Linked DNA regions of Homo sapiens: all the other regions are linked to region 3. Evidence: fine-mapped expression QTL. A gene starts in region 3. Each other region holds a variant in brackets. All regions are shown on one strand. Distances are from middle to middle.

Region 1 (5,076 bases), 67 kb after region 3:
CCTTTATTTTATAGATGAGAAAATTGAAGCTGAGAAACTTCAGTAACTAAAAATTGAAATTCAAACCCATTTCTGACACCAAAACCATGCTTTATTTATTTATTTACTTTTTGACAGGGTCTCGTGCTATTGCCCAGGTTGAAGTACAGTGGTGCAGTCACAGCTCACTGCAGCCTTGAACTCCTGGACTCAAGTGATTCTTCTGCCTCAGTTTCCACAAATGCTGGGTTTATAGTCATGAGCCACCATGTCTGGCCAAAATCATGCTTTTAACTATACAGTACTGCTTGCCTGATAAAAGAGTAAGTATTTTCCTTTACCACTTATGTAGTCCAATGGGAACACTCTTGAAAACTAGAAGGAAGTTACAGAATTCATTTGTATCCCCCCAGGATCTTGCACAATACTGGGCATAAGTGTTCCAGTTTCCCCAAGGATGAACTGCAAACCAGATCAACACAATCTTAGCAACAGCAGCATAAGCTTGGTGTAGTAGCCTTTTCTTAAAAGAGAATCATCATGTAATAGATATCAGGTAGCTTTCTCATAGTTTGCATAATCACTAAACTCTTGGTGCCTCCCATTTGTTTTATGCTATATTAGTCCTTTTGGACTGTTATAATAAAACATCATAAACTGGTAGTTTATAAACAACAGAATTTATTTTTCACAGTTCTGGAAGCTGCAAGTCTAAGATCCAGGGTCCTGCAGATCTAGTGTCTGGTGAGAGCCAGCTTATTGATTCATAGATTACCTTCTGTCTGTGTCCTCACATGGCAGAAGAGGTCAACAAACTCCTTTGGACCTCTTTGATAAGGGCATTAATCTCATTCATTTAGGCTCCACCCTTTATGACCTAATCATCTCCCAAAGGCCCCAGCCCTAATACTGTCACCTTGGGGGTTAGGATTTCAACATACGAATTTTGGAGGAACACAAACATTTAGTCCATTGCACATCCCTCTGAGATTTTTCACCCGATCTTTCTTCTCAGTCTACTTTCTCTACCTTAATGAATCAACTCAATTTTCACCTCTTCTGTGAAGGAAACTTCCCTGACCTCCTCAGGTAGAGGGGACTACGCTCTCCTTTGTTTTTTACTACTTCTGGTATCCTACCCCTTCCAACACACATTAGACTGTATGTAATACTGGTGTGTGTGTGTGTGTGTGTCTTTATAGAAAGCCTGGGAGGAGTTCATTGCCATGTAGTCAGGGAGACAAATGTGTAACATAATATTCACCTCACATCTGTGTAGATTTACATGAGATATCCAAGGCACAGAGTGCTGCAGCTCATGTGCAACATATTTATTGAGTGCATGATAACATCAATAAATAACTTTTATATTAGGAGAGGGCGTAATTTACTAGAGCATTCCTCGAAAGGTCCCATCAGAAACTCCCCAAGATTTTAATAACTGTTCCTTGAAAAAAAGAATATATCGCTCAAATTGATTTGATAAGTTCAAGGTTGAATAAAGTTAAAATTTTTAATATGCACAAATTTTTAATTTTTCCCTGCAATACTTCTTGGAACTCTTAATGTGCCAATGTGCATTGTGAATTTCCAAAAGTGGATTCAGAATGCAGCATTTCCTAATTGTATTGGGCCATAAAATTCCATGTTCTCCATGTACCCTAGGACACAGTTTGGAGATATTGTTGAGAGTAGAGTATGATATCATTGTCACCATATATTAACTGCTTGATTTTGGGTCACCTCTTTATGCCTTAGTTTCCTCAACTGCAAAATGGGGATAATACCTTCCTGCCTGCTTCAGACAGGTGAAAAGAAATGGGAATAATACCTATATCTAATATTGTTGTTGGCAAAACAAAAAGGTTTATAAAATGTCCAGGAGTTCTTAGTAGATGTTAGCAATTACAATTATTAATAGTATGTCCAGGAGCCAACTCTTCATCTTCAGATCTCTAACACTTTGCAGAATACCAGATTTGAAGCTGAGTTAAATTCAGACTGTTAGTACATGTCTCAGCTTTAGAATGTAGGTGTCCAAAAAGACTTCCCCTCCACCTGTATCATTTGCCTTTTAAACAGAATCTGAGTCAATATATTAAGTTAGTCCTGTTCTGGCCATGGTCCTGTCCTTTAGTATCTTCTTGTAAAAAATAAAAATAAGAAGAAATGAGGTTCAACTAAATAACCTCGAGAGTTCATATTCCCTCTAAAATTTCAAGGTAAAACTAAAGTAATTCTTTCTCAAGTTGCAGCAGAAGGAGTTTTTGTATTTTCTAACTGGTCTGATAAGCACAAAGAAGTCGTTTTTTTTACTTAGAAATGCCATTTTACAGGAGGCTGAGGTGGTGGGATCACTTGGGCCAGAGCTCAAGATCAGCCTGGGAAACAGTTAGATACCTGCCCCCAGCACCCAAATTAAAAGTACAAAAAATCTGGGTGCGGTCGTGAATTCCTGTAATCCCAGCTACTTGGGAGTGGAGGTGGAAGGACTGCTTGAGCTCAGGAGTTGGAGACTGGGCAACAGAGCAAGACTCATCTCAAAAAAAAAAAAAAAAAAGAGAAATGTCACCACTTTAAACTGGTTCCCATCAACCTTTTTGATACAAAGAAATTTTACTTTTGTTAAACTATTTTAGACCACTGTATCAGTTATTATATGTGACTAGGTAGCATGATAACCTATAATTTATGCCTTGAAATAATTTTGACTCATTTTCTTCCCACATCTGTATTTATGAGCCGGGGCAGCTGTGGGGTGGTTCTTTGTGTGGGATTAAGAGACACTGCAGTTCTTGAAATAAACCAGATGTTTGAATTTTCAAAGGAAAAGTTCACACCTAGTGAAGTATTTATTTACAAGCTCCACAACAAAACAAGAGATTATAAGAAAACTTTCAAGGGACATGGGTCACAGAAACCAACAGGAACACCACAGCTTTCCCAACTTCATGGCCCCGGGGGATGTTACAAAAGACACAGAAACGCCGATCTTGTGCTGACTGTAAACATTTGT[C/A]AACTAGTGTTACAATGACTAAGAAATTACAAAAGAGTTACAATCTGATGAAGAGCGATTCCTGCTTTGACTTTATTTGGTTTCTATCCACTTTTCCAACATACCTTATAAAATACATGCAAAAAACTGGTTTTAGAAAGCGTTCCCTAAAATTAGTGTGTACGGAAACTTCAGGTATACTTCTGCTTTCCTCCGCAAAACCACCCCTTTTTAAAAATCGAAAGTGAAATTAGTTTTTTTTTCTGTTAGTGACTAATCATTGGAGACAACCATGTTTAGTATTTGAGCATTGGTTAAATGCTAAAGAAAAATCGCCGTTAAAGCAGTTTTCTTTTTCACTGTCTTTTTCTTTTCGCGGGGAACCCAGCTGTTCCTGCGAGGGCCACCTCCTCAGGAAGACCCCGCAGCTCTCCCGCGGCGCTTCTGCAGGAGGCAGCGACAGTTTCGAGAACCCGGGCCTTCCCCTCCCAGTGCCTCCCGGGGTTCCGGCGTTTCAGGCGCTGCTGTTTTCCGGGAAGGGCAGGCGCGCTGGGCCTTGGGGAGCTGCGCTCGGCGGGCGGACGCGGGTGAGTGGGGAGTCCCTTCCCCGGCTGCCACTCCCGCCGCTGGCAGTCCCGGGCTGGAGAGCCGGGGGTGGAAAGGGAGGTGGGAGCCCTCAGCGCCGACGGAAGTGGGACAGCGCCGGAGTTGAGACCCTGCTCCCCGGGAGCTGCCCGCAGCCGAGTCGCGGAGGCCACGCCGCCTTCGAGGGGGCGCACCTGCTCCTGGGCCCGCTGTGCAGTCTCTGGGCCGTCAGGGCTTCGAGCCTTGTCACTTGTTTGCTTTGCTTCATTGAGGAAATTGAAACATAAAGTTATTTGTGTTTCCTCGCTGTTTTCTCTCTTTTTTTTTTTTTTTTTTTTTTTTGAGACGGAGTCTCGCTCTGTCGCTCAGGCTGGAGTGCAGTGGCGCGATCTCGGCTCACTGCAAGCTCCGCCTCCCGGGTTCACGCCATTCTCCAGCCTCAGCCTCCCGAGTAGAGTAGCTGGGACTACAGGCGCCCGCCACCACGCCTGGCTAATTTTTTTTTTTGTATTTTTAGTAGAGACGGGGTTTCACCGTGTTAACCAGGATGGATACGATCTCCTGACCTCGTGATCCGCACGCCTCGGCCTCCCAAAGTGCTGGGATTACAGGCGTGAGCCACCGCGCCCGGCCCTCGCTGTTTTCTCCGAGTGTCTCTGGAGATAGTCCTTAGGAAAACGGATTTCTTAAGAAAACGATTCTTGGTAGGGGCAGTGTTGTGCAGTCATGGCTGGCGTGTCAGAATAGGCAAGGTTTTTCTTGAAGGAGACATCCGAAGGAGAATACTGTGTTTCCAGTCTGTACAACAGGCAGACGTTCTATTGCCTTTCTTTTTGCTGCCACGCATGCATATAGGAAGATTCGATTCTACACGGCCTGGCACCGCAGTTATATGATTGTATTACGGAAATACGGTGATGTTGATTTGTATCAGTTTTTTTAATTCGCTGCCATAACAAATTACATGGCTTTAGTGGCTTAAACACATAGGAACGCGCGCGCGCGCGCACACACACACACACACACACACTCACATACACAATTTACTATCTTAGGATTCTGTAGCAGTCCTACTGAGGTCTCACTGGGTTAAAATCAAAGTGTTGGCAGGGTTGCCTTCCTTTCTGGAAGCTCTTGGGGTGAATCCTCTTTCCATCTTCCGGAGGCCACCTACCTTATTTGGCTCAGCAGCCCTTCCTCCATCTTCAGGGCCAGCAACATTGCGCCTCTGAAAGTTCTTCCGGGGTCACATTTCACTCTTGACTCTTCTTCTGTCTTCCGCTTTCACTTTTAAGTAGCCTCATGATTACACTGGGCTCCCACAGATAATCCAGGATGCTCTCCATATTTAAAAGCAAGCTGATTAGCAACCTTAATTCAATCTGCAGCCTTAATTCTCCTTTGCAATATAAACTAACATAATCACAGATTCTTGGGATTAAGATGTGGACATCTTTGAGGGAGCCATTGTTTTGCCTACTACATGATTGCATAAAAGGAATGACCATACATCCCAC
Region 2 (5,076 bases), 60 kb after region 3:
TTAATGGCCAGCCTAGAAAGAATTCTCTGGGACACTGCTCCAGCACTCTGGTGAGAGCCATTCTCATGGTTCAATGTCCATGCTGAGCAGTTGTGTTTTCACTATCACCACTGCATGTATAGTGTGTGTGTGGGTTTGTTGAAAGTTCACTTGTCTGACTGTATGACTGAAATAATAGAAAGAAAAGAGGAAACAACTTAGGGGAGGAAAATAGTAAGAGAGAGGAGGCCTAGTATGTTCTGGAGTTGGATAGCTGACTAATTCAGTGGGATGTGGAAGGGAGTAATGGCTGATGAAGTTACCGATAAACTGTAGCCAGCCTGTGGTGGAAAGTTTGGTATTGGGAGTGACGGGAGGGAGTGTACATCTTACACTCTGGAATTTGGATTGTATATATGGGATGTCATCTGCAAGCGCTTAACATGTCGAATGACATGATGATACTGACCCTTTTAGAAGAATAATCTGGCACGAGTATACAGGATGAAAGGAAAGAGAATCATTAGCAGGGTAAATTCCAGATGTAGATTAGCCCCATGAAAAGTCCTGCGGGAAATTCAACTATGAATTTTCATGCAAGAGAGTATGGGGAAAAAGAGACACTGGCTGTGGCATGAGAAATGAAACTGGGCAGAATTTTTGAAATCAAGTTTTAAGAAATCTGTGCCATCTGATCACATTGCCCTTTGCAGGAGGCCAGATTAGGTTTGTGGCCACATAAAAGGGGCTGTATGAGCAGCAGAGAAAACAATTGCTGCTTGGTATATCTTCAGAGACTACATCACAAAAAACCCACTCAATATTACCCATCTTTCTTACGTGTACAGTTCATTAAAGAATATGGCAAAAATGGCCAGGCACGGTGGCTCACGCCTGTAATCCCAGCACTTTGGGAGGCGGAGACGGGCGGATCACGAGGTCAAGAGATCGAGACCACCCTGGCTAACACAGTGAAACCCCGTCTCTACTAAAAATACAAAAAAATTAGCCGAGTGTGGTAGTGGGCGCCTGTAGCCCCACCTACTCGGGAGGCTGAGGCAGGAGAATGGCGTGAACCCGGGAGGCGGAGCTTGCAGTGAGCCAAGATCGCGCCACTGCACTCCAGCCTGGGTGACAGAGCGAGACTCCGTCTCAAAAAAAAAAAAAAAAAAAAAAAAAAGAATATGGCAAAAATAAGAGAAACAGAATGAGTGAGAGAGAAAGATCTTAGACTTACTATCTGACTGACTTGTTTTTATGTGTTCTATCTAAATCTAGATCAGCAAACAACTAAGTCTTGGCAGCCCAGAATCCGTTCCTGGCACACACTGCACAATTCGAGGGGACATGAGGAGGCATTGTGTGGTGCCCATCCAGTGTCATTTTATGCAGTTGTCTTGGTGACTGTATTCAGGTCTTGCATTTTATATTTTAACCTATCAAATTATTTTCTCTATGCAACAGTCATCCCTTTCAACTCTTCTAATTATAGCTTAAAATCAGAGGACAATATTAATATTAATAATATTATTTAATTTTGCATTTACTGTTCAAAAAGTATTTTTATGTACATTAGCTAAATTAATCCTCACCAAACACCCTATAATTGGTAGGTAACATTATTGTCATCATTTTTACATTTGAGAAACTGAGAAATGGACCCTCGGAAAGCTAAAGGGAAATGCGATCAGTAGTAACATTTTTTTGAGCACCTATTATATACCAGATCCTTTACATATGCCCAAGTTCACAGAGCTAGTCAGGGTCAAAGCAAAGACTCAGCTTGGTTCTCCTGGTGATTTTAAGGTGGTGCAATTTCCATGACAAACCAGCCTACCAGGTGTTGTTTGTCCACCTGAGAAAACTTCTATTTGAGTATTGGCACCAAAATTAGAGTTCTTATTCTTCAAAAAGTTGAAAAACAGCTGAGGTCAATCTCCCAAAAGGCAACAACGTTTCCATTCCAATTCATAAAGTCGCGAAGCAGTAAGATCTGAAGGACACTGTTTTATTTTTATCGGAGATGAAGCTTGTTTTTATTTACAATTTCCCTGGACGGGTTTAAGCCCTGAGAAGGATGAATTAACTCTGCCTTTGTATATTAAACATTATCAAACATCCCCATGCAGATATTATGTTATTAAAATGAGTCCTGTGTGTGAGATCATTCTATCTTGTTACATTGTACACTAGGGCAAACTATTTAGAATAAATTGAAATGAATAATTAATGAAAGAGAAGAGAATACCTCTTTCAAGTTCCCATATACACTTGCCCTGTTCTTTTTTCTTGGCTTCTCTTACTTCCTCTTTCCACTCTTTAGTGTCATTTTGACTCATTTCCCCTCACTGTTTATTCC[T/C]TCCTTTCCCTCAGAGTAGCTATAATGGCAGCCTAGCTACAAGCAAGAAGCCAATGCTCTCTGAAGGAGATGGCACGAAAGATAGGAACAGCTCTTGCTCTTTCCTCAGGAAAAGCACACCAGGGTGTGGAGACAAAAGGACTCCATTTTGGATGCTGATCTGCCATATTGAGTCCTGATTAGCCCCAGTCCCATGAATGCCTCCTAATTCCTCATTTATTTACTGTCCTTAGTGTAAGAACATGTCAAACCTGATATTATCAGACAAACTATAGGCTATAATGCATATGGCATTCTTGCCTGTTTTGGAGGGTTGCTTTTAATTGTCTTGCTGGAGCACGTATACCCTTTCCCTGTGGTATATAAGCCCTGGGTCTGGGAAGCAACAGTGCAGAGATCTGCCTTGCCGCCACATTTCCATCTTAACTTTCCATTAAAACACTCCTTACTGACGAACTGGATTTGTCTGCCTTGTTCTTTGGTAGCTCAACTCCTTTGGCATTTGGGGGCTGCTTTGCATATACCGCCCCTTCATGAAACACAGGGACACCTAGAAATACCTCACTTTCCGTCTATGGACTCGGCCTCCAGGCTGGAAACAGTAAGAGGGTTCTGCGCTTCGTAATAGCCAGGTGGCACATAAAACCCGTCGACCAGAATGACAATCTCTGGTCATGATTTTAGTGAACCAGTTAGTGTACAGCCTTGTCACTCAAAGTGTAGCCCAAGCGTGTCCGGAATTGGTGGGTTCTTGGTCTCACTGACTTCAAGAACGAAGCTGCGGACCCTCGCAGTGAGTGTTACAGCTCTTAAAGGCGGCATGTCCTGAGTTTGTTCCTTCTGATGTTCGGATGTGTTTGGAGTTTCTTCCTTCTGGTGGGTTCGTGGTCTCACTGGCTCAGGAGTGAAGCTGCAGACCTTTGCGGTGAGCGTTACAGCTCTTAAGGCGGCGCATCTGGAGTTGTTCGTTCCTCCCGGTGGGTTCGTGGTCTCACTGGCTTCAGGAGTGAAGCTGCAGACCTTCTTAGTGAGTGTTACATCTCATAAAGGCAGTGTGGACCCAAAAAGTGCGCAACAGCAAGATTTATTACAAAGAGCGAAAGAACAAAGCTTCCACGCTACGGAAGGGAACCCAAGCAGGTTGCCACTCCTTGCTCCGACAACCTGCTTTTATTCTCTTATCTGGCCCCACCCACACACCCTGCTGATTGGTCCATTTTACAGAGAGCCGATTGGTCCATTTTACAGAGAGCTGATTGGTCCAACAGGGTGCTTACTGGTGCGTTTACAATCCCTGAGCTAGACACAAAAATTCTCCATGTCGCCACTAGATTAGCTAGATACAGAGTGTCCACACAAAGTTTCTCCAAGTCCCCACCAGAGTAGCTACAGAGTGTTGACTGGTGCATTCACAAACCCTGAGCTAGACACAGGGTGCTGATTGGTGTGTTTACAAACCTTGAGCTAGATACAGAGTGCCGATTGGTGTATTTACAATCTCTTAGCTAGACATAAAGGTTCTCCAAGTCCCCACCAGAGTAGCTAGATACAGAGTGTCCATTGGTGCATTCACAAACCCTGAGCTAGACACAGGGTGCGGATTGGTGTGTTTACAAACCTTGAGCTAGATACAGAGTGCTGATTGGTGTATTTACAACCCCTTAGCTAGATATAAAGGTTTTCCAAGTCCCCACCAGACTCAGGAGCCCAGCTGGATCCTGCACGGGGGCCGCAGGTGGAGCTGCCTGCCAGTCCGGTGCCGTGCGCCCGCACTCCTCAGCCCTTGGGTGGTCCATGGGACTGGGTGCGTGGAGCAGGGGGCGGCGCTCGTCGGGGAGGCTCGGGCCCCACAGGAACCCACGGAGGCGCGGGGGAGGCTCAGGCATGGCGGGCTGCAGGTCCCGGGCCGTGCCCCGTGGGAAGGCAGCTAAGGCCCGGCGAGAAATTGAGCACAGCAGCTGCTGGCCCAGGTGCTAAGCCCCTCACTGCCCGGGGCCGCCCGCCGCTCTCAGTGCGGGGCCCGCCAAGCCCACGCCCACCCGTAACTCGCGCTGTCCTGCAAGCACCGCGCGCAGCCCCGATTCCCCCCGCGCCTCTCCCTCCACATCTCCTCGCAAGCTGAGGGAGCCGGCTCCGGCCTTGGCCAGCCCAGAAAGGGGCTTCCATAGTGCAGTGGCGGGGCCAAAGGGCTCCTCAAGTGCCGCCAAAGTGGGAGCCCAGGCAGAGGAGGCGCCGAGAGCGAGGGAGGGCTGCGAGGACTGCCAGCACGCTGTCACCTCTTACAAGAAACAGCACCATCAGCATCATCTAGGAGCTTTTGGAATGCAAAATATCCACCCTAATCCTACAGAATCAGAATGTATATTTTAACATGATCTTCAGCTGATTTATATGGACATGGAAGTTTGTCAAACACTGGTGTACAGAAAGTCTTCTTGCCCAAAAACATATTTTTCCCTATCTTGTAACTATGCCACACATTTCAAGGGAGATCCACAGAAATAATTTATTATATCAAGATATATATTAGGCTGGGCGAATATATATCTTCGTAGATACATATTAATCTATTTTGATAGATTAATTAGGTGGTGGCTCATGCCTGTAATCCCAGCACTTTGGGAGGCTGAGGCTGGTGGATTGCTTGAGTCCAAGAGTTCGAGACCAGCCTGGGAAATGTGGCGAAACCCCAATCTCTATAAAAAATATACACATAAAAAATTAGCCGGCTGGGCGTG
Region 3 (5,076 bases):
GCAACGTCTGCCTCTTGGGCTCAAGTGATCCTTCCACTTCAGCCTCCTGAGTAGCTAGGACTACAGGCATGCACCACCACACCCAGTTAATTGTGTTTTTTTTGGTAGAGACAGAGTTTCTCTATGTTGCCCAGGCTGGTCTTTTTAATTCCTGGGGTCAAGCAATCTGCCCACCTCAGACTCCCACAGTGCTAGGATTACAGGTGTGAACCACTGCATCCCACCTTCCTTTCCCTTCTTTTTCAGATTCAACAATAAAAATAATTGCTTATCTGTGCATTTTTTATTCTCATGATCCATGTAAAATGATTGTAATTTCTTGTCCTTAACTGTGGTTTGTTTTTGTTTTAAGTACTATTTTAAAAATTAGATGATACCAGAGTTAAAATAAGCCTTAGGGATCCTTTACTTCAACCTTATCATTTTACCAGATTGGAACCATAACCTAGAGAATTTAAAGTAAACTTGTCCAACTTGCGGCCTGCCAGGACGGCTTTGAATGTGGCCCAACACAAATTTGTAAACTTTCTTAAAACATTATGAGTTCCCTGGGCCAGGTGCGGTGGCTCACGCCTATAATCCCAGCACTTTGGGAGGCCAAGGTGGGCGGATCACGAGGTCAGGAGATTGAGACCACCCTGGCTAACATGGTGAAACTCTGTCTCTACTAAAAATACAAAAAATTAGCCAGGCGTGGTGGCGGGTGCCTGTAGTCCCAGCTACTTGGGAGGCTGAGGCAGGAGAATGGCGTGAACCTGGGAGGCGGAGCTTGGAGTGAGCCGAGATGGTGCCACTGCACTCCAGCGTGGGCAACAGAGCGAGACTCTGCCTCAAAAAAAAAAAAAAAAAAAATTATGAGTTGCCCAAGACAATTCTTCTTCCAATGTGGCCCAGGGAAGGCAAAAGATGGGACACCCTAGATTTAAAGTGTCCTGTTCTTGATAGTTGCTAACAGATGTATCCCTTCTAATCCAACTATCTTTCCTTCCTAAATGGTTTCTAAAAAGATTATATTGATCCAACCAACTATAAACATCTGTGCTAGGCTGGCTGGTCAAAAATTTGCCCCAGATTGAAGCAATTTGCAATTATCCTGACCCTCAGATTTGTAGCATACATTAATAGACGTTTGAATTTGCTTCTCTCTACCTCTGGGGCAAAACTTCTATTGTCCAGGTTTATATTTTTGTAACATATGACAACACTTTAAAAGACAACTCTAAATTACTTGATTATTAGAGGGTTTGATAATATTTCAAAGTTTATCTGCCTGGATTTAATTCTTACTAGCTTTATGACATTTAAAAAAAATCCTGACAAATATGAGTGTATTTCCTATATTTGACTGTATTCAACTAAAATAAAGAGATGGGCTCATTCCTCTACTAAATTTCAGATCCCGTCTTGGCCAAATGGATCACAGTGAAATTAGTTCACTGGCTCAAGCTGAAAAAAATAGGCGGCAAGGCTGTGCATTACAAATTAGGCTTTTTAATGAAATCCGCATGGTTGCAGTTATTACCAGAGAGAAACATGCTGAAAGGGAAAATATTCTACAACTGTGCTGTTTAGAAAGCATAAAATCAAAATCTAGGTTAATTTCGCCTTCTCTTTATTTCTTTATTCTATGCAAGAATCTATGCATTTTTCCCCAAGAAATTCAATTTTTTTTTACTATTAAACACAATAATGAACATAGAGCAATATCAATTTGTATCATGAGAATTAAAGCATTGTTTAGCATACTGTAATCTAAGGGGTGTTTTGGATTTTCTGCATTTTCCTTTTTTGATCTATTGTTTATCTTCACTGTTTGGCCTGTCTCATTCCTTACATTTAACAAAACAAAATAACAAAAGAAACTTTCCTTGTCTAACAAAAGGGTCAGAAAAGTATTTATATGGATAGTAGAAACAGAAAGAATCAAAGTGGTAAGAATGCATTCAGAAGGAGAAACATTTTTCACTTTTTTCTGTACTGCAAGCTGGCTTGGTCAAAATAGTCAAAATGTTTGAAAAAACTAAGATATAGACTATAGCTCAGAGTCCATGAAGCAATTATTATAAAATTTTCGTAGACTCCAATTTACCTGTTAGGATTCTGAAATCTGATTGCAAATGCATTGACATAAAAACAGAAGACTATATTGGAGTTTCTAGTTGGTTAAAGAAATACTCCTCACTGTACTACTACATCTGCTTTGAAAAGTTTAAAAATATATTTTCATACTGAATATAAATATTAACTGCTATTTTCTACTGAACAATTCACTTTATAAAATGCTATTTTTAAATTTTAGAGGACAAGAACGCTTAAAAAAAAAAAAGCGTATGTATTCCAAAGGCTATCTTTCCTAAGCATTTTCTTTGAGAACATCAGCCTTGTACAGAATAGAAAAAGTTACTGCTTTAAATTTCCTTCTCCATGATTTAAAGAATTGACATTCTCAACAAGAGGCTCATGAGTGAAGGTTCTTACCAAGCCATATGGAGTTATGAAAAATTCCATCCTTGAATCCCCATCCTTGAGTGTCTTCCCATAGCAAGAGAAATAAGTAAATTAAGATGATCATATCGTCAGTTGTAGTGAAGTAACAGCCTGTTAGGGGCTGCTCACAAATTCTCAGAGCAGTGGCTGAAATGTGACTGAAACATCTGGTTTCCACATCTTTTAAATAGTTTTTTTCAACTGTGAGGTCAGCAAGTACTCTCCAATGGCATTTTCCGCTGTAGAGTTACACAATTATCTCAGTGTCTGAAGCAAATCCTCTGACTCATTTGCATTGGCAACCAAAACTAAGGAGATAGAATGATCATCTATGTTTTAAAATTAACTTACTAAGAACGGAGTTCATTTATTGTTAGTCACAAACACTTTTCTGTTAGAAAGTTTGTGTAACTTGATGCAGATTTAGCAGTGATTAAAAGAAAATCGAACTTCAGTAGGAATTTCAAGATAAATCCTAAATGTCTTATTTGCAGTGTCAATTATGGGATATGGGGTTAAACACTAATCTTTTATTGGTAATGTTGGACTGGCTTTTCTAAACATTGTCAAGCCTGTGTAAAAAATTTAAAACAAAAAGTATGCACAGCTTGGAGAATCCTAATTTTTCTCCAGTGATATATGACTTCCTTATTCTCTGCCTGCTTTTCTTCCAGGGTGGGGTCTGTTGCAGTCTTTGGTGTGTTATGGTCAGCAGCTAAATAAATGTATCAGCTCCCAGAAAAGTATTTCAATTTCAGAGCGTCAGGATGTTCCAGCAGCTTTGGGATGTCCTATTATAACACAGTTTTCCCAGGCCACAAATTCTTGAAGTGTTGGGAGAAAGGTGGGTAGACTAACAAAGTTAATAAAAACTTGTCCCTAGCTTCCCTAGACCACTCTAACTTTGAAGAAGACGATCAAGGTAATAGATAATAATTATTACAGTAAAGTCATCATGTCTTCAAATATCCCAAACTTTCCTCTTCCTTTGTGTAGAATCCTTGGGTAACATATCTGATAATACTCCCACTACCGCTGATGCTAATGGCATTTCCTATTGTTCATTGATAGCCATTTATTGGCAACTTTTGATTTTTTTACAAAATTGGTCATTTTTTGCTACTTAGATTCTCTACTTTTGGTCTCAAATTGCTTCCCATTCACTCCTATTATAGCATTCATTTCTCCCATGCTTTCTTAGTCCCTCCAATGATGTTGGAGTTCTTTGAAAAAGCCAACTTGCTAGACATGCTCTGGTTTGAAGTTAGCTTTGAATCCCTTAGACATCTTTGCTTTGAACATCTCAGGTGTGTTCTGGTCTCATCTCTTCTCAAAAGAGCAGTTATGGGGATGTAGGCTGAGAGTACAGAATTTATTGGATGCTCACTGAGGTATACATAAAGTTACTAGCATTGAAAATCTTTATTTTGGACTGGTGGCACATGAAAGATGAGGGAATTGTATCCAAGTTCACAGATAGGGTTAGTGAATTTAAGTTTGTTGCAAAAGAGAAAGGTATAGTTTAGACCAGGTGGGTGTGACTATGGAGAAGACAGGCATGGTTACTGAGAGCAAGATTCATAGGTAGTTGGAAGGAATAAACCATGATATTTCTTTGGAAAGTATAATTATATGCGTATTTTAAGTTTGTGGTTTAGGAAGTAAATATAACTTTAGTTGTGCAGTGCTACAGCAAAACCTTCCCATAGTCTTTCCAATTCTTTTCTTGTCACATCCTCCAGCTGTGCCCTTTCTGCATCTCTCTCAAGCACCTAATTTCCCCCTAGTTCTCATTTATCAAAAATTACTCTCAGGAAAGGGTTTGCAATTAATCTTTAGTTAGGCCAGATAACTAAGAACAGATACCCTTCTGTGTTCATTTGCATTTTAATGAAGCTCCAAGTAGAGCGAAGTGTGAATGTTCAACTTCTTTTAACACGAAAATTTAATGAGTTGCTTTGATGAATTAACCCGATCTGGGGTGGAGGATTTCTTTCTCCCCTCTCCCAACTCTCATGCAGAATATAAATATTTCCCCTTACCTCTGCATAGTGTCTGAAAATCTCATCCTCCATATCATCAAGGAAATAGAGAATAATGCCTAATGATGTAAGTTCTGATTTTGAGGGGCATTCAATAAAGGAAAGAGGAAATGGGGTTTTCATATGGAAAAGATGCAGAGGGTAATCCTGAGGACGAGAGAGAAGAAAAGAGAGAGTAGCAAAGGAAATGTTGCCTATGAACTTACCTTGGAAGTTGTCTAAGAAGCACCCTCTGCCCAGCCTCCAGCACACACCACCCAGGATAAGCCTCATGAGGAGCTGAGAGAAGATACACTGATAAAAGTTCCTTTCAGGCCGGATGCAGTGGCTCATGCCTGTAATTCCAACACTTTGGGAGGTCGAGGCAGGAGGATCACGAGGTCAGGAGTTTGAGACCAGCCAGACCAATATGGTGAAACCCCGTCTCTACTAAAAATACAAAAATTAACTGGGTGTGGTGGCTTGCTTCTGTAATCCCAGCTACTCAGGAGGCTGAGGCAGGAGAATCGCTTGAACCCGGGAGGCGGAAGTTACAGTGAGCCAAGAT
Region 4 (5,076 bases), 26 kb before region 3:
ATTTATTTATTTTTGAGATAGAGTCTTGCTCTATCGCCCAGGCTGGAGTGCAGTGGCACGATCTCAGCTCACTGCATCCTCTGCCTCCTGGGTTCAAATGATTCTCCTGCCTCAGCCTCCCAAGTAGCTGGGATTATAGGCATGCGCCACCATGCCCAGGTAATTTTTGTATTTTTAGTAGAGACAGGTTTTCACCATGTTGGCCAGACTGGTCTTGAACTCCTGACCTCAAGTGATCCACCCGCCTCTGCCTCCCAAATTGCTGGGATTACAGGCGTGAGCCACTGCGCCCGGCCACATTTATTATCTTACAGTTCTGTAGCTCAGAAGTCCAACGCGGGTCTCACTGGTCTAAAACCAAGGTGTTGTCAGGGCTGTGTTTCTTTCTGGAGGCTCAGGGGAGAATCTGTTCCTATACCGTTTCTAGTTCCCAGCTGCAACCCACGTTCTTTGGTTCATGGCTTCCTTCCTCCATATTCAAAGCTAGCAACATAGCATCACTGTGACCCTGCTTTGTTGTCACCTTTTTTTTCTCTGACTCTCTTTTTATGCTTCCTTCATCCACTTTTAAGGACCCTTGCAATTACATTGGACCTATGTGTATAATCCAGGATAAGCTCCCTATTTTAAGGCACTTAATTACATCTGCAAAATTGCTTTTGCCATGTAAGATAATATAGTCACAAGTTTCAAGGATTAGGACTTAGACATTTTAGAAGGATGGAGGATTTCTGCCTACCACAAAAGGTTATGTTTAAAATCCCATTGTCTGACAACTACCTCCTATCTCTCCATTCATTCTCTCTTATACTCTGATTCTACAGTCTTTGAGCCTTTGTGGGAGCTTCACTTCATCAAGTCTACCACTTTTTCAGTGTGCCTTATTTACTGATGTCCTCTCTTCCCTTCTAATTAAACTACATTCTGGCCGGGCATGATGGCCCATGCCTGAAATCCCACCACTTTGGGAGGCCAAAGCAGGCGGATCACTTGAGGTCAGGAGATTGAGACCAGCCTGACCAACATGGTGAAAACCTGTCTCTACTAAAAATACAAAAAATTAGCTGGGCATGGTGGCGTGTGTCTGTAATTCCAGCTACTTAGGAGGCTGAGGCGGGAGAATCGCTTGAACCTGGGGGGCAGAGGTTGCAATGGGCCGAAATTGAGCCACTACATTCCAGTCTGGGTGATGGAGTGAGACGCTGTCTCAAAAAAATAAATACATAAATAAGTGAAATAAGAAATAAAAATCAAAAAAATCTGCATTCCATGGGTTTTTACAATCCCTCCTTTAAGCATGCACACTTCTTCCTCCCTTGCCCCTTTCTTGTTATACTCACACGGCAAAAACCCAGCAGCGGTTAACGCAATTCTCCCTCTAGCCTGTCTTTTTCTCGTGAAGCTGAACGTGGCTAGAAGAAAACACCCTTGCTGACCAGTCTCCCGTTAAATTCCATGACCATGAACTTCAGATGGGCCCTTTGTGCTGCCTGGTAATCACATGCTATTTCCTAGTTCATTCACTTTCCCACTTTCCTAGAAGACTCTTTCATGCCTTCTCTCTTCTCAACCTCTCACATCTACCTTTCCATCCTCACTGTTGGCTCATGACTTGACTCTTTCTTCACTGAGAAATGCAAAGCAAGAAGAAGTTCCTGCAGATTCCTACCATCTATCTTCCCCACCTGTCGACTTCTGTGGCCTCACACTCTGCCTTCCTCCTAAAGGGTCTGGGGGCAGAATCCACAGGGTCGTGATCTTGCATGTGGGATTGAAAGTTTATTTCCAATGACTTTTATCTGAAATCTAGCATGTCTTTCAACTATGAATGTAGTTAATAAATGTAGCATTAGCAGTACCTGTGCTTTTAGCCCCGAAAGACACTACAGATATATGAAACAGTTTTTGTAGAACTCATAAAATATTGTATACGTGTATTACCACTTTGAAATTATTATTATTATTATTTTTGAGACAGGGTCTCGCTCTGTCACTCAGGCTAGAGTACAGTGGCAGTGGCACTATCACAGCTCACTGCAGCCTTGACCTCCCAGGCTCAAATGATCCTCCCACCTTAGCCTCCCAAGTAGCTGGGACTATGGGCACATGCCACCACACCCAGCTAATTTTTTTAGAGACAGGGTTTCTCCATGTTGCCCGGGCTGGTCTCAAACTCTTGGGCTCAAGCCATGTGCCTACCTCGGCCTTCCAAAGTTATGAGATTACAGGTATGAGCCACGGTACTCAGTCTACTTTGAAATTATGGTAGTTACTCGACCCACTGCTAGATCTTATATACAGCATTAATAAA[C/GAAAC]ACATGCTTTAATGTATCACAGTTTTTTTTGTTTGTTTTTAGATATGGGGGTCTCACTATATTGCTTAGGCTGGAGTGCAGTAGGGCTATTCACAGGCATAATCATAGCTCACTGCAACCTCAAACTCCTGGGCTCAAGCCACCCTCCTGCCCCAGCCTCCTGAGTAGCTGGAACTATAGGCATGTGCCACCACACCTGGCTTTGATTTTTTTTTTTTTCAATGATTTGATAACTGTGTTTTAATATAATTAGTTTTCTTTGTATTCCTTTATATTTTATGCATTTGAAAACATTATTCTGACCATCCAGAAATTTCACCCATCAAAGAATTTATGGTATATATAAAGGCTAAGAGTCCCTCCTGCAGGTGAATTATCCATGTCCCTCTCTAAATCCAGTCCCTCTATTTGTGCACTAGATACTATCTCCTCTCACTGTGCTAAGTGTCCTCCTTTTGCCCTTCTGGATCTGTTCTCCACCTTCTCCTTGCACTGGGCCCTGGAGCTGATCTCTGTGCAGTATCAACCAGATCTCGTTGCATTCTGACTTCTGTTGGGATGAGACAATGGGAGGTACAAGTAGTACAGAGAAGGGTGGAGGAGGGAGACTTTGGGGTATTTATCCTCAATCCCTCCCCATGGCCTTAGGTGGGCAGAAGCTCTTTTCCGGCTTTGGTTGGGCAACCCTTTCCTGTGGCTAAAGCTCCCTGTCTTGATTTCATATAACTGCCCCTGATTTTGCTCCTTCATGGCCCTCCTGCTTTGTGAGCACCCTGTGATTCACCATTCCTTCTCTTAAGTCAGCCCATTCCTCTATTATAATCTCTCCAGGCTCCCTCTTTGGAGAGTGTCATATGATTTTTGCCAGGGGCCTCACAACTGCATGGGCTCAAAGAAATGGCCCCAGCAGCTCTCCCAGCTGAGTTCATTCATTCTCATCAAGAAAGTCTCCTTTCAGCCCACTTGTCCTTACAGCTACCACTTCCTTGTTAGCCAGACCCACTGTCTCCAATACCTCTCCTTTCTCCTCTAGTTCACTTTTCACACACTTCAGTTGGGCCTTTGCCTCCTCCCCACTGAAACTGCCCATCCAGGTCACTGATGATCTCACAGTGTCAGTAGTTTATAATGCAGCACCCTAACCTATGTTTAATATGTAGTCTATTTATTATGTATATTAATTATTATCTCTCTCCCTCCACCAGAACATAAGCTCCTCAAACGTGGGGATTTTTGTTCCTTTGGTTCTCTGGTATTCCCTAAGTGCCTAGAACAGTGCTTGGCACATGCTTTTTTTTTTTTTTTTTAGCGAAGTCTCACTCTTACCCCCAGGTTTGAGTGCAATGGCTCAATCTCAGCTCACTGCAACCTCCGCCTCCCGGGTTCAAACGATTCTCCTGCCTCTGCCTCCCAAGTAGCTGGGATTAAGTCGCTTGCCACCATGCCCGGCTAATTTTTGTATATTTTAGTAGAGACGGGGTTTCACCATTTTGGCCAGGCTGGTCTTGAACTCCTGACCTCAGGTGATCTGCCTGCCTTGGCCTCCCAAAGCGCTGGGATTACAGGTGTGAGCCACTGTGCCCGGCCGGCACGTGCATTTTTGTTTAATTTAATTAGATGGTAATCATTGCTTGTTTAGGGATGGAAAGGCGTGATACCTTTCCTTACCATCATAAGGCCAACACTCCTATAACAAAGGCAGGCTAACAAAAGAAAAGCATTATAAATTTATTTAATCAAAATTTTATGTGACATGGGAGCCTACAGAAATGAAGACTCAAAGACCCAAGGAAAATTGTATTTTTATGTTTAGGTTTGATGAAGAATAGACGGCCATGTAGAAATGTGATTGGACAAATCATGTGATCTCATGGCAATAGACCAAGTGGGGAGGCCCAGTAAGGCCTGTCTGTCTAGATTCTTCTTGGCCTCTCTGTGTAACACTCCTTCCTTCTGGGTGTGGGGCAGGACTCTTCTGGAATGAGGGTCTGCAAGGGAGAAGGAGGACAGAGAGACCTTTCTAGGTTTTATAGCGTGCTTTTTGGGAGAGGAGTCTGTAACTAGACTTGAGGAAGAGGAATTTTGGTTCTGGTTGCTTTTTTTTTTTTTTAAAGACAGGATCTCACTCTGTCTCCCAGACTGGAATGCAGTGATGCAATCATAGCTCCAGTGCAGCCTCAAACTCCTGGGCTCAAGTGATCCTCCCGCCTCTGCCCCCCAAGTAGCTGGGACTACAGACATGTGGCACTATGCCCAGATAATTTTTAATTTTTTAATTTAAAATTTTTTTCATAGAGATGAGGTCTTGCTATGTTGCCCAGCCTGGTTTTGAACTCCTGAGCTCAAGAGATCCTCTGCCTCGGCCTTCCAAAGTGATGGGATTACAGGAGTGAGCCACTGCGCCCGGTGAATTCTGGTTTTTATGACTTGCTTTGGAAGAGGAAGACTTGGGGCAAGAGGGAAGATGGAAGGAGAAGGTCACAGAGATCTTGCTTCTGAGGCCTTCCAGTCTCCTTTAGCTCAAAGTACTCAGTATCCCAAAGTGTCATACTTTAGGGTATCGTCTGAGTCCCAACATCCCTCATTACCGAGTAACAACTGTGTTTTTTTCTCCCTAAAAAGGTGAAGTGACAAAACAAAAATAAAATATAGATGAATACATGTCATATCTTATAATGGGAATTTTTATTCTCTTAAATAAAAGTTATAGGAGGTCATTGGTTTGGACTTAGCTTCTGCACCAGGCCAAAGAGACCAAACCAAAA
Region 5 (5,076 bases), 74 kb after region 3:
CAGGTCCCACATTTAGGCAGATAGGAGAACATCAGTGCACCTTCATCCTGTGCTTTGGGAGAGACAGAGGAGGAGGAGGGGGAGGTCAGAGAGACCTTGAGCCATCTTCAGTTCACCATGTCAAAATGCCATACTTCCGGGTATCAGTTTCTGAGCCCCAGTGATAGCAAAAGGATCCAGTTGAGGATCATGCTTTCTACTTAGTTGTGAGGTCTCTTTAGTCTCCTTCAGTATGGACATTTCTTAGTCTTTCCTTGGCCTTCTGAACTTGAAACTTTTGAAGAGAACAGGGCAGTTGTATTGTAGAACCCCTCAATTTGAGTTTGTCTGATGTTTCCTCATGCTTAGATTCAGATTATGCATCTTTGGCAGGACTGTCGTCGAAGTTACATTGTGTTCTCAGTGCACCTTGTAATATGTTACATTATTTTGATTTATTCCATTATTTACTTTGATTATCTCATTATGTTGATGTCTGCCAGACTTCTCCAGTATAAAGTTACTCTTTTCTTCTTTGAAATTAATAAACATTTTGTGGGGAACTATTTTGAAGCTAACTAAAAATTCCTTTCTTCATCAAAATTTCTAATTTATCTGGACTCAGTTTTTTACTTTAATCAACAGATTTAATCATTACTACCATTATGTATTTTAATCTTTAATTTATCCCCAGATTTGGCCACCGAAAACCATCTCAAGGTGGATTCTGTGTCGTTTCAACATGTCATCATCATTCTTTAAGCATTTCCTTGCTTTTTGGCATCATAAGATGTCCCAGGCTCATCTTGCAGTTTTTCTATCCTGGTTTTGGGATCAACCATTTCTCTAAAGAGTCCTGGTTCCTTTTGGTGGAGAATAGTATTAGAAACCAAAGTCTGGGTGCTGAGTGTGCTCATTGCTCATTGTGGTTGTATCTGCTCTCCCAGGCCTTCTCAGCAGACAGAGCTAGGGTATATATGTATTTGTATATACACAAGATACACACATAGGCATTGCTTTTTTTTTTTTTTTTTCTGAGATGGAGTCTCACTCTGTCGCTCAGGCTGGAGTGCTGTGACGCAGTCTTGACTCACTGCAACCTCTGCCTCCCGGCTTCAAGCGATTCTCCTGCCTCAGCCTCCCGAGTAGCTAGGATTACAGGTGCATGCCACCATGCCTGGGTAATCACACATAGGTATTTCTATCTGTCTGTCTATTTATCTATCTATCTATCTATCTATCTATCTATCTATCTATCTATCTATCTCAATCATCAATCAGAAACCACAGCTGCAGGATTACATTGAAATCTAGTTCCAATCAACAGTATTTATTCTTGTTTTCTCCATTTCCATATTTATAATTATCTTCTCTGACGGTGAAAAACTTGGCTCCTATTATCCTCCATATATTTACTTACTTGATCAATTCTGTGTATGTACTTTTGGCCACTGGAGCCCTTTCAGTTGGGTCCCCATGTCCCTTTCACATACTCCCATCATATTGTATGTGTTTGTGCATGTGTTTTAGTGCTTTTTACTTTTCTGGCACTACAAGATATTCCAGGCTTATTTTGTATATTTTATACCCCAGACCTAGAATCAGCCATTGCTCCAATGAGCCCTGGTTTCTTTTATTGAAGAATATTATTAGAAACCAAGATCTGGGTGTTATGCGACTCTCCTCTTTTTTTGACACTCCTGTGTTCATTAAACTAAGACATAGCTAAGTTTTTGCTAGTCTTCTATTTTATTTTTAAGGAGGAATAGATGTCTTTTATTTCTTTTTCAAGAATATTGAGAATTTAGCCACTTGAAATCTTGGAAAATTATATGGCAGACTGTTTATTAATGTGTATCTAAAAACATAGAATCATGATATCCTTTGTCCCATTTTTGATCTGAGAGTTTTTCATCTCAGTAAATTCATATGTAGGCAAGAGTTCTTAAATTTTGTGTACCATGGATTCCTTTGCCAGCTTGGCAAATCCTATGGGCCTTTCTCCAAAAAAAAAACATTTAGTCAATGCCTGTGGGGACAGGCATGGTGGCTTATCCCAGCACTTTGGGAGTCCAAGGGGGGCGGATTGTTTGAGCCCAGGAGTTCGAGACAGTCTAGGCAACTTGGCGAAAACACATCTCTACAAAAAATACAAAAATTAGCTGGGCATGGTGGCACATACCTGTAGTCCCAACTACTTGGGGGGCTGAGGTGGGAGGATCACTTGAG[T/C]CAGGGATGTTGAGGCTGCAGTGAGCCGTGTTCATGCCCCACTGCACTCCAGCCTGGGCAACAAAGTGAGACCCTATCTAAAAAAAAAATTAAATGCATAAAATAAAATACATAGAATTACAAAGTAAATCAATTGTATTGAAATATGACTGGGATTATAGGCACCTGGCACCACGCCCAGCTAATTTTTTTTGTATTTTTAGTAGAGACGGGGTTTCACCATGTTGGCCAGGCTGGTCTCAAACTCTTAACCTTGTGATCCACCCGCCTTGGCCTCCCAAAGTGCTGGGATTACAGACATGAGCCACCGCGCCCGGCCAGAAATCAATTGTATTGAAATATGGTTATCAGAATATTTAAAAAGCAAATGTTTGATATAGTGATATATATCAATGTATTACAATATATTACAAGACCTAGTGGTGAGGTTAGTAACTAATGTAGAAGCAATGTTAAACACAAACTATTTTAGCATATCTGCAACAATATTCTATGAAACTATCTGTGCTTTCTATTGGTGACTATCACAGGTGCTGTGAATACTACTGTAGTTTGTTACCATATTCATAATTGAAGAGAATGCTAAGCTTCAATTAGAGGTTATTAGAAATAAACATATAATTTCTTCCCAATCCATGTTTATGGACCCAGCAGGAGAGTTAGTGAAAGCTTCAGGTAAGAACACCTGCGTAGAGAAAGCATATGTTGGAGGCCTCTTGACTTTGTTTACATTTGGGGAGAACAATAGGGAGAATTAAATATTTTAATCAAAAACTTTGAAAAACGTTGGAAAACCAAAATAGTATTCATTTAAAATGGAGCATGATATTATGGTTGGAATGTGAACTACAAAGGAACATTAATGTTCATTACTTTCTATATATTATTTTGTTGAAAAGCAAAGGATTTTTAGAATCTTTTTATATATTATAGGTGTGAAAGTTATTTGAAATATTGGCCAGGTGCTGTGGCTCACGCCTGTAATCCCAGCACTTTGGGAGGCCGAGGGGGGTGCATCACTTGACAAGAGTTCAAGACCAGCCTGACCGACATGGTGAAACCCCATCTCTACTAAAAATACAAAAATTAGCCGGGCATGGTGGCAGGTACCTGTAATCCCAACTACTTGGGAGGCTTGAGACAGGGGAATCACTTGAACCTGGGAGGCAGAGGTTGCAGTGAGCCAAGATCGCACCATTGCCCTCCAGCCTGGGCGACAGAGAGAGACTCTGTCTCAAAAAAAGAAAAAAAAAAGGAGTTATTAAAATACAGACTTTGTTTGGATATAAGCCATATGATAATAAAGCCTTTGATGATGGGAAAAAAAGATATAGCAAAGAAGAGATGTTTCTTCCATAAAAGGGTAAAAGTTCTTATTTCTTTGTTCTTAAATTTGTGTATATATGCTATGCTTATAATATTTATTTTTTATAATATTAGGGGATCATGGAAGCTGATAAAGATGACACACAACAAATTCTTAAGGAGCATTCGCCAGATGAATTTATAAAAGATGAACAAAATAAGGTAAAAAGGAAATTACTGGGTATTATTAAAAATTATTTTATATCTATTAGTTTTGCAGTAAGGCATGTTTTGTATGTCTTTGTCCAACATTACCTTGAATTTGGGAGGCCGTTAGGCTTTAAAAAAATTTTTAACTTCCATTATGTTATTTAAGCCTTACAAGAAGTGTCATATTTTTATTCTTTCTCTTATAAGGCTTACAACACTAGCTGCTTTCTCACTCACACCCTCATTTCTTGGATTTGCATCAACAAGTTAAGAGCATAGTCAGCAATTATCTCATTAGACCCCAAGAGGGAACGGAGGCCCAGGTAGCTTAAACCACTTCCCCAAGGTCATATGTCTGGCTCATTAAGGTAACTGTGTACTATGCGATACTATGGGAATCACAGATAATTAAGAACAAAAACAACAACAACACCAACAACAAACTGCCCCAGAATATGTCCGCTATTACAGTGCAATTTAAAAGTCTTATCATGCTCACAAATAGCTAGGAAAGGAGTTGATGCAGCACTGAAGTAATATTCAGAAGATCTGATCTCAATCTTTGCCTTACTATACAACTTTCTGTGACTTCGGTCTAGTGTAAAAGGTGGTTTCCTGATTTATATAATGGAGATAGTACTACTTGGCAATGTTAGAATAGACAGGTGATGATGTAAAATATTCAACAAATGCATTATTCACATAGTCATATTTATTCTGAGACTGTCTAATGTCTTTCTTTGGTCAGGATGAGAGAAATTTATAGTCTTTAGTTCATTCGGAAAAATGAGTTCAGGGGCTATTTACTTTCTTTGGTACCATTTGATATTTTTAAGGGACTAATTGATGAAATTACAAAGAAAAATATTCAACTAAAGAAGGAGATCCAAAAGCTTGAAACGGAGTTACAAGAGGCTACCAAAGAATTCCAGGTACTCTCTTAATTATTTTATATACTACATTTTTGATGGATGCATGGTTTTTGGAAAAAGCATTTTAATTACACAAAATTCATTTTTAAAACCTTATCATCATCCATGGCACCACCATTTGTAATAGTTCAAAATGGAAAACAACCCAATGATTCCTTCATAGTAGAACGAATTAGTGAATTGGGGTATAGTCATATGATAGAAAACTACACAGCAATGAGAATGAACAGATCATAATGACATGCAGCAACACAAATGAGTTTCATAAACACAATGTTAACACAAAAAAGACAGAAGAGGGCATACCATATGCTTCCCTTTAAATTAAGCAAAAGCAGGATGTTTGAAGTTAAAACAGTGGTTATTTTGGAAGCAGGTAAGACCCAGAAGGGAACCCAAGGGGGTTTCTGGGGTGTTGTCA
Region 6 (5,076 bases), 45 kb after region 3:
AGATTTTGCATTCTGTTGGAATTGTTACACAGTTCAGCTGGAGGTTTCCTTTTCCCTGTGGTCTTTTCCCAGTTCCTCTGGCAGCCCTCCCCAAGGACTCCTGTGAGGCAAGGCAGAAATGGCTTCCCCGGAGACCCAGAGAGCCCACAGGGCTTATCCCGCTGCTTCCTCTACCCCTGTATTTCACTCAGCTCTCTAAATTGACTCAGCTGCAGTTAATGTCAGAATCTCCTCCTGTGATCTAGACCTTCAGGTTCCCCTGTGAGGGTTGTCTCACGCAAGTCTGTGTGAAGAGACCACCAAACAGGCTTTGTGTGAGCAACAAGGCTGTTTATTTCACCGGGGTGCAGGTGGGCTGAGTCCGAAGGAGAGTCAGCAAGGGTGGTGGGATTATCATTAGTTCTTATAGGTTTTGGGATAGGCGGTGGAGTTAAGAGCAATGTTTTGGGAGCAGGGGGTGGATCTCACAAAGTACATTCTCAAGGGTGGGGAGAATTACAAAGAAATTTCTTAAGAGTGGGGGAGATTATAAAGAACATTGATCAGTTAGGGTGGGGCAGAAACAAATCACAATGGTGGAATGTCATCAGTTAAGCTATTTTCACTTCTGTGGAACTTCAGTTGCTTCAGGACATCTGGATGTATATATGCAGGTTACTGGGGATATGATGGCTTAGCTTGGGCTCAGAGGCCTGACATTCCTGTCTTCTTATATTAATAAGAAAAATAAAACAAAATAGTGGTAAAGTGTTAGGGCGGTGAAAATTTTTGGGGGTGGTATGGAGAGATAATGGGTGATGTTTCTCAGGGCTGCTTCGAGCGGGATTGGGGTGGCGTGGGAACTTACAGGGGGAGATATTCAACTGAAGAAGGATTTTGGGGTAAGGAGTGATATTGTGGGGTTGTTAGAAGGAGCATTGTTATTCTCTTATTTGGAAGACACAAGGTCCGAATAAAAGAAGGAGAAAAACAGGTATGAAAGGACTAAGAATTGGGAGTACCCAGGACAACCAATTACAGAGTGTCAAAGGGGGTTCGGCATAATTATTTGCTTGGTTGGCATGTTTTTGGGCTCTATCCTTGAGTTTTTTTATGTTGTCATAGACCAGGCCAGATTGATTTAGGTAAAAACAACCTTCTTCATTTAAAAATATACAGAGTCCCCCCTACCTTTTTTTTTTTTTTTTTTTTTTTTTAGCAGTGAGTAAGTTAGGGCCTCCTCGAATTTGGAGGAAAGAGAAATGCAAAGCCAGCAATTGTTTGTTAAAGAAGGATTAGAAAGGGCTAGGAGAGAGTGACTGAGATTGATAGTGTGGTGGAGATAGCTGGGGAGAGGTAGAGGGTGGCATAAGAATGGGAACGAGAATAAGAGTAAGTATAAAAGTAAAGAATAGGACTTCATCAGGGTGAAAGTATTGGAGGGTACTTTATCACTGAAGATCTTCTATCCACTTCTAGATAGACTTAAGGGTGGCGATTTGAGGTAAAACCAGGAGCCACTAAATACCAAGAGCCTCAGAAACTGAGGTGGGAAGGCCAAACCGAGGAATTATGTCTGACAGAAGGGAGGAAATGACCATGGTGGCCTTCTCAGACCCTGTGAGAAAGGCCTCTACCCACCCAGTGAAAGTGTCTACCCATACCAAGAGGTATTTTAATTTCCTGACTCGAGGCATGTTGAGTAAAGTCAATTTGCCAGTCCTGGGTGGGGGCAAATCCCCAAGCTTGATGTGTAGGGAAGAGAGGGGGCCTGAACAATCCCTGAGTAGTAGAATAGCAGATGGAACACTGAGAAGTGATTTCCTTGAGGATAGATTTCCACGATGGAAAGGAAATGAGAGGTTCTAAGAGGCGGACCAGCGGCTTGTAACCTACATGGAAGAGGTTATGAAATGACAGAATAGAATGGGCCTGTGAGGCTGGAAGGAGATATTTTCCTTGGTACAAGAACCATTTGCTTTGTGTGGGAAGAGATTGATAGGTGGAAGTTTCAGTTGGGGAGTAGGTGGGAGTGACTAGATGAGGAGAAAAACTGCCGTGAGGGATAGAAGTTGGAACGCTAGCTGCTTTTTTAGCTACCTTATGAGCATAAGCATTGTCCTGAGTGATGGGATCTGATGCCTTTTGATGGCCTTTGCAGTGAATAATTCTAGCTGTCTTTGGAAGTAAAGCAGCCTTGAGAAGAGTTTTTATTAAAGAGGCATTAATGATGGAGGACCCTTGTGTAGTGAGGAAAACTTTCAGCTCATAAA[G/A]CAGCATGGTGGTGCAGGATATGGGGTCAGCATAAATATTGATGAGTAGTCCCTTTACAAGAGTGAGGACCCGAATTAAGGCAATGAGTTTGACTTGCTGAGAGGTAGTGGAGGGGGGCAGAGCAGTAGCCTCAATGATAGATGTGGAAGATACTATAGCATAGCCTGCCTTTGCTGGTGAGTGGTGATTAGGCTTGATGGAACTGCCATCAATAAGCCAAGTGTGATCAGGGTAACGAACACGAAAGAAGGAAATAAGGAGAAATGGAGTGAATGTCAGGTGGATCAGAGAGATACAGTCATGGGGGTCAGGTGTGGTATCCAGAATAATGTGGAAGGCCAGATTGAAGTCCAGGCCAGGAACAATGGTAATTGTGGGAGACTCAACAAAGAGTGAGTATAGCTGAAGGAATTGGGGAGCAGAAAGTATATGTGTCAGGTGTGAGGAAGAAAATAGATTTTGAAAGTTATGAGAGCTGTAGAGAGTGAGTTGAGCACGGTTTGTGATTTGGAGGGCCTCCAAAAGTATTAAGGCAGTGGCAGCTGCCACACGCAGACATGAGGGCTAGGCTAAAACAGTAAGGTCAAGTTGTTTGGACAGAAAGCCTACAGGGAGCGGTCCTGGCTCTTGTGTAAGAACTCCGACCGCACAGCCCTGCACTTCAGCTGTGTGTAATGAAAACGGAGTGATGAGTTAGGGAGAGCCAGTGTGGGAGCAACTTTTAGGGCTGTTTTTTAAGGAATGGAAAGGGGAGTGGGGAAAGGATTTAGGATCTGTGTGGTCAACTAGGTTTGCTTTTGTGAGTTTATATAATGGTTCAGTCAGGATGGTAAAACTAGGTATCCAAACGCGGAAGTACCTAACCATGCCCAGGAAGGAGAGGAGTTGTTTTGTAGAAGGGGTTGGGGTTTGGGAGATTAGCCGGACACAATCAGCAGGGAGAGCACGTGTGTTTTCATGCAGAATTATGTTGAGATAGGTAATGGATGAGGAAGAAATTTGGGCTTGACTGAAGTAATGGGGGCTGTCCGTGAAGCCTTGCAGCAGTACAGCCCAGGTAATTTGCTGAGCCTGATGGGTGTCAGGGTCAGTCCAAGTGAAAGCAAAAAGAGGCTGGGATGAAGGGTGCAAAGGAATACTAAAGAAAGCATGTTTGAGATCCAGAACAGAATAATGGGTTATGGAGGGGTTGTGGAGGGAGGTATTGAGGATAGGAGAGTATATGGCTTTGGCACCATGGGGTGATAGGCAAGACAATTTGGTTGTTAAGGTGCAGATCCTGTACTAATCTGTAAGGCTTGTCCGGTTTTTGGACAGGTAAAATGGGGGAATTGTAAGGAGAGTTTATAGGCTTTAAAAGGCCATGCTGTAATAGGCAAGTGATAACAGGCTTTAATCCTTTTAAAGTGTGCTGTGGGATGGGATATTGGCATTGAGTGGGGTAAGGGTGATTAGGTTTTAATGGGACGGTAAGGGGTGCATCATCTGTCACCAAGGAGGGAGTAGAGGTATCCTGTACTTGTGGATTAAGGTGGGGAGATATAAGGAGAGGATGTGAAGGAGGCTTTGAATTGGGGCAAAAGATGGCAATTGAGGTGTGGCTGTAGCCCAGGAATAATCAGGGAAGCAGATAATTTGGTTAAAATGTCTCAGCCTAATAAGGGAACTGGGCAGGTGGGGATAACTAAAAGGAGTGTATAAAAGAATATTGTCCAAGTTGGCACCAGAGTTGGGGAGTTTTAAGAGGTTTAGGAGTCTGGCCGTCAATACTTACAACAGTTTTGGAGGCCAGGGAAACAGGCCCTTGAAAATAAGGTAATGTGGAGTGAGTAGCCTCCATGTTGATTAAGAAGGGGACGGACTTACCCTCCACTGTAAGAGTTACCAGAAGCTCGGCATCCACGATGGTCCCGGAGGCTTCTGAGGCAATCAGGCAGCATCAGTCTTCAGCCGCTAAGATGAGAAGATCCGGGAAGGAGTCAGTCAGAGAACCTTGGGCCAGAGTTCCCGGAAGAATGGCTGCCAGGCGAGTTGAACAGTCCAATTTTCTGTGGGGTCCCACACAGATGGGACATGGCTTACGAGGAATTCTGGGCTGCGGGCATTCCTTGGCCCAGTGGCCAGATTTCCAGCACTTGCTTCTGGGGGAGGGGGTTCTGGAGGAACCCCTGGCAGCTGTGGTTCAGGCGTTTGGAGTTCTTGTGTGCTGGAGCTGTGGCTGGGGTTTGTCTCACAGTGGAGGCAAGGAATTGCAACTTAGAAATACATTGCTACTTGGCTGCCTCTACTCTATTATTGTACACCTTGGAGGTGAGGTTAATTAAGTCCCGTTGTGGGGTCTGAGGGCCGGAATTTAATTTTGGGAGCTTTAGTTAATGTCGGGAGCAGATTGGGTAATAAAATAAAATGCATACTGAGAATAAGACGGCCTTCTGACCCCTATGGGTCTAGGGCAGTAAAATGTCTAAGGGTTGTTGCCAAATGGGCCATGGACTGGGCTGGGTTTTTATATTTGATGAAAAAGAGCCTAAATCCTAGCTGATTTGGGAGAGGTCGGATAAAGAGAAAAGGAGCATTAACCTTGACTATGCCTTTAGCTCCAGCCACCTCTCTCAGAGGAAATTGCTGGGCAGGTGGGGGAGGGCTAGTCGCGGAACAAAACTGTAAGCCAGACCGGGTGAGGAGGGGAGGTGATAAAAAGATTGTGGGGTGGGTGCGCAGAGGCTGAGGAAGAATTGGGACCTGGCTTGGCCTGGCGAGGAGCAGCCTGGGGAGAAAGGGAGGTCAGATGAGTCTGTAGAAAAGGAGGATTCAAAGGACTCA

Which allele goes with the higher level. Alleles are on the strand shown, and positions count from the first base shown. SD is a standard deviation of normalised expression in the study named. Not every link is listed here.
As copies of A replace C in region 1, the expression in whole blood of the gene that starts at base 2,647 in region 3 goes down (moderate effect, 0.58 SD a copy in GTEx).

What was found. PIP is the estimated chance that this variant, and not a neighbour inherited with it, causes the effect.
Region 1: its variant is fine-mapped to the expression of TNFAIP6 in whole blood (TOPMed, PIP above 0.99). The same link has a PIP of 0.9 or more in blood mononuclear cells, neutrophils and spleen.
Region 2: its variant is fine-mapped to the expression of TNFAIP6 in whole blood (INTERVAL, PIP above 0.99).
Region 4: its variant is fine-mapped to the expression of TNFAIP6 in monocytes after LPS (Quach 2016, PIP 0.95).
Region 5: its variant is fine-mapped to the expression of TNFAIP6 in whole blood (INTERVAL, PIP 0.98).
Region 6: its variant is fine-mapped to the expression of TNFAIP6 in whole blood (TOPMed, PIP above 0.99).

What each region holds. Positions count from the first base shown.
Region 1 is chr2:151,288,078-151,293,153 of GRCh38, reverse strand. It overlaps NMI (N-myc and STAT interactor), which reads left to right and starts at 3,486. Exons shown (of 8, transcript NM_004688.3): 1 at 3,486-3,561. RefSeq lists enhancers at 2,898-3,317, 3,378-3,457, 3,848-3,897, 3,918-3,967, 4,768-4,937 and a silencer at 3,518-3,717. The variant C/A (reference allele first, on the strand shown) is at 2,996.
Region 2 is chr2:151,295,371-151,300,446 of GRCh38, reverse strand. No RefSeq gene overlaps it. Among named protein-coding and RNA genes, the nearest start is that of NMI, 8.2 kb to the right of the region's middle. The variant T/C (reference allele first, on the strand shown) is at 2,339.
Region 3 is chr2:151,355,163-151,360,238 of GRCh38, reverse strand. It overlaps TNFAIP6 (TNF alpha induced protein 6), which reads right to left and starts at 2,647. Exons shown (of 6, transcript NM_007115.4): 1 at 2,479-2,647. The coding sequence starts at 2,572. All of the region lies in intron 2 of LOC101929319 (a long non-coding RNA gene), which reads left to right.
Region 4 is chr2:151,380,834-151,385,909 of GRCh38, reverse strand. It overlaps a transcript of TNFAIP6 not described here. Among named protein-coding and RNA genes, the nearest start is that of MIR4773-2, 15 kb to the right of the region's middle. The variant C/GAAAC (reference allele first, on the strand shown) is at 2,312.
Region 5 is chr2:151,281,527-151,286,602 of GRCh38, reverse strand. NMI (N-myc and STAT interactor) reads left to right here. Exons shown (of 8, transcript NM_004688.3): 2 at 3,649-3,735; 3 at 4,560-4,655. The coding sequence starts at 3,655. Among named protein-coding and RNA genes, the nearest start is that of NMI, 5.6 kb to the left of the region's middle. The variant T/C (reference allele first, on the strand shown) is at 2,209.
Region 6 is chr2:151,310,421-151,315,496 of GRCh38, reverse strand. No RefSeq gene overlaps it. Among named protein-coding and RNA genes, the nearest start is that of NMI, 23 kb to the right of the region's middle. The variant G/A (reference allele first, on the strand shown) is at 2,253.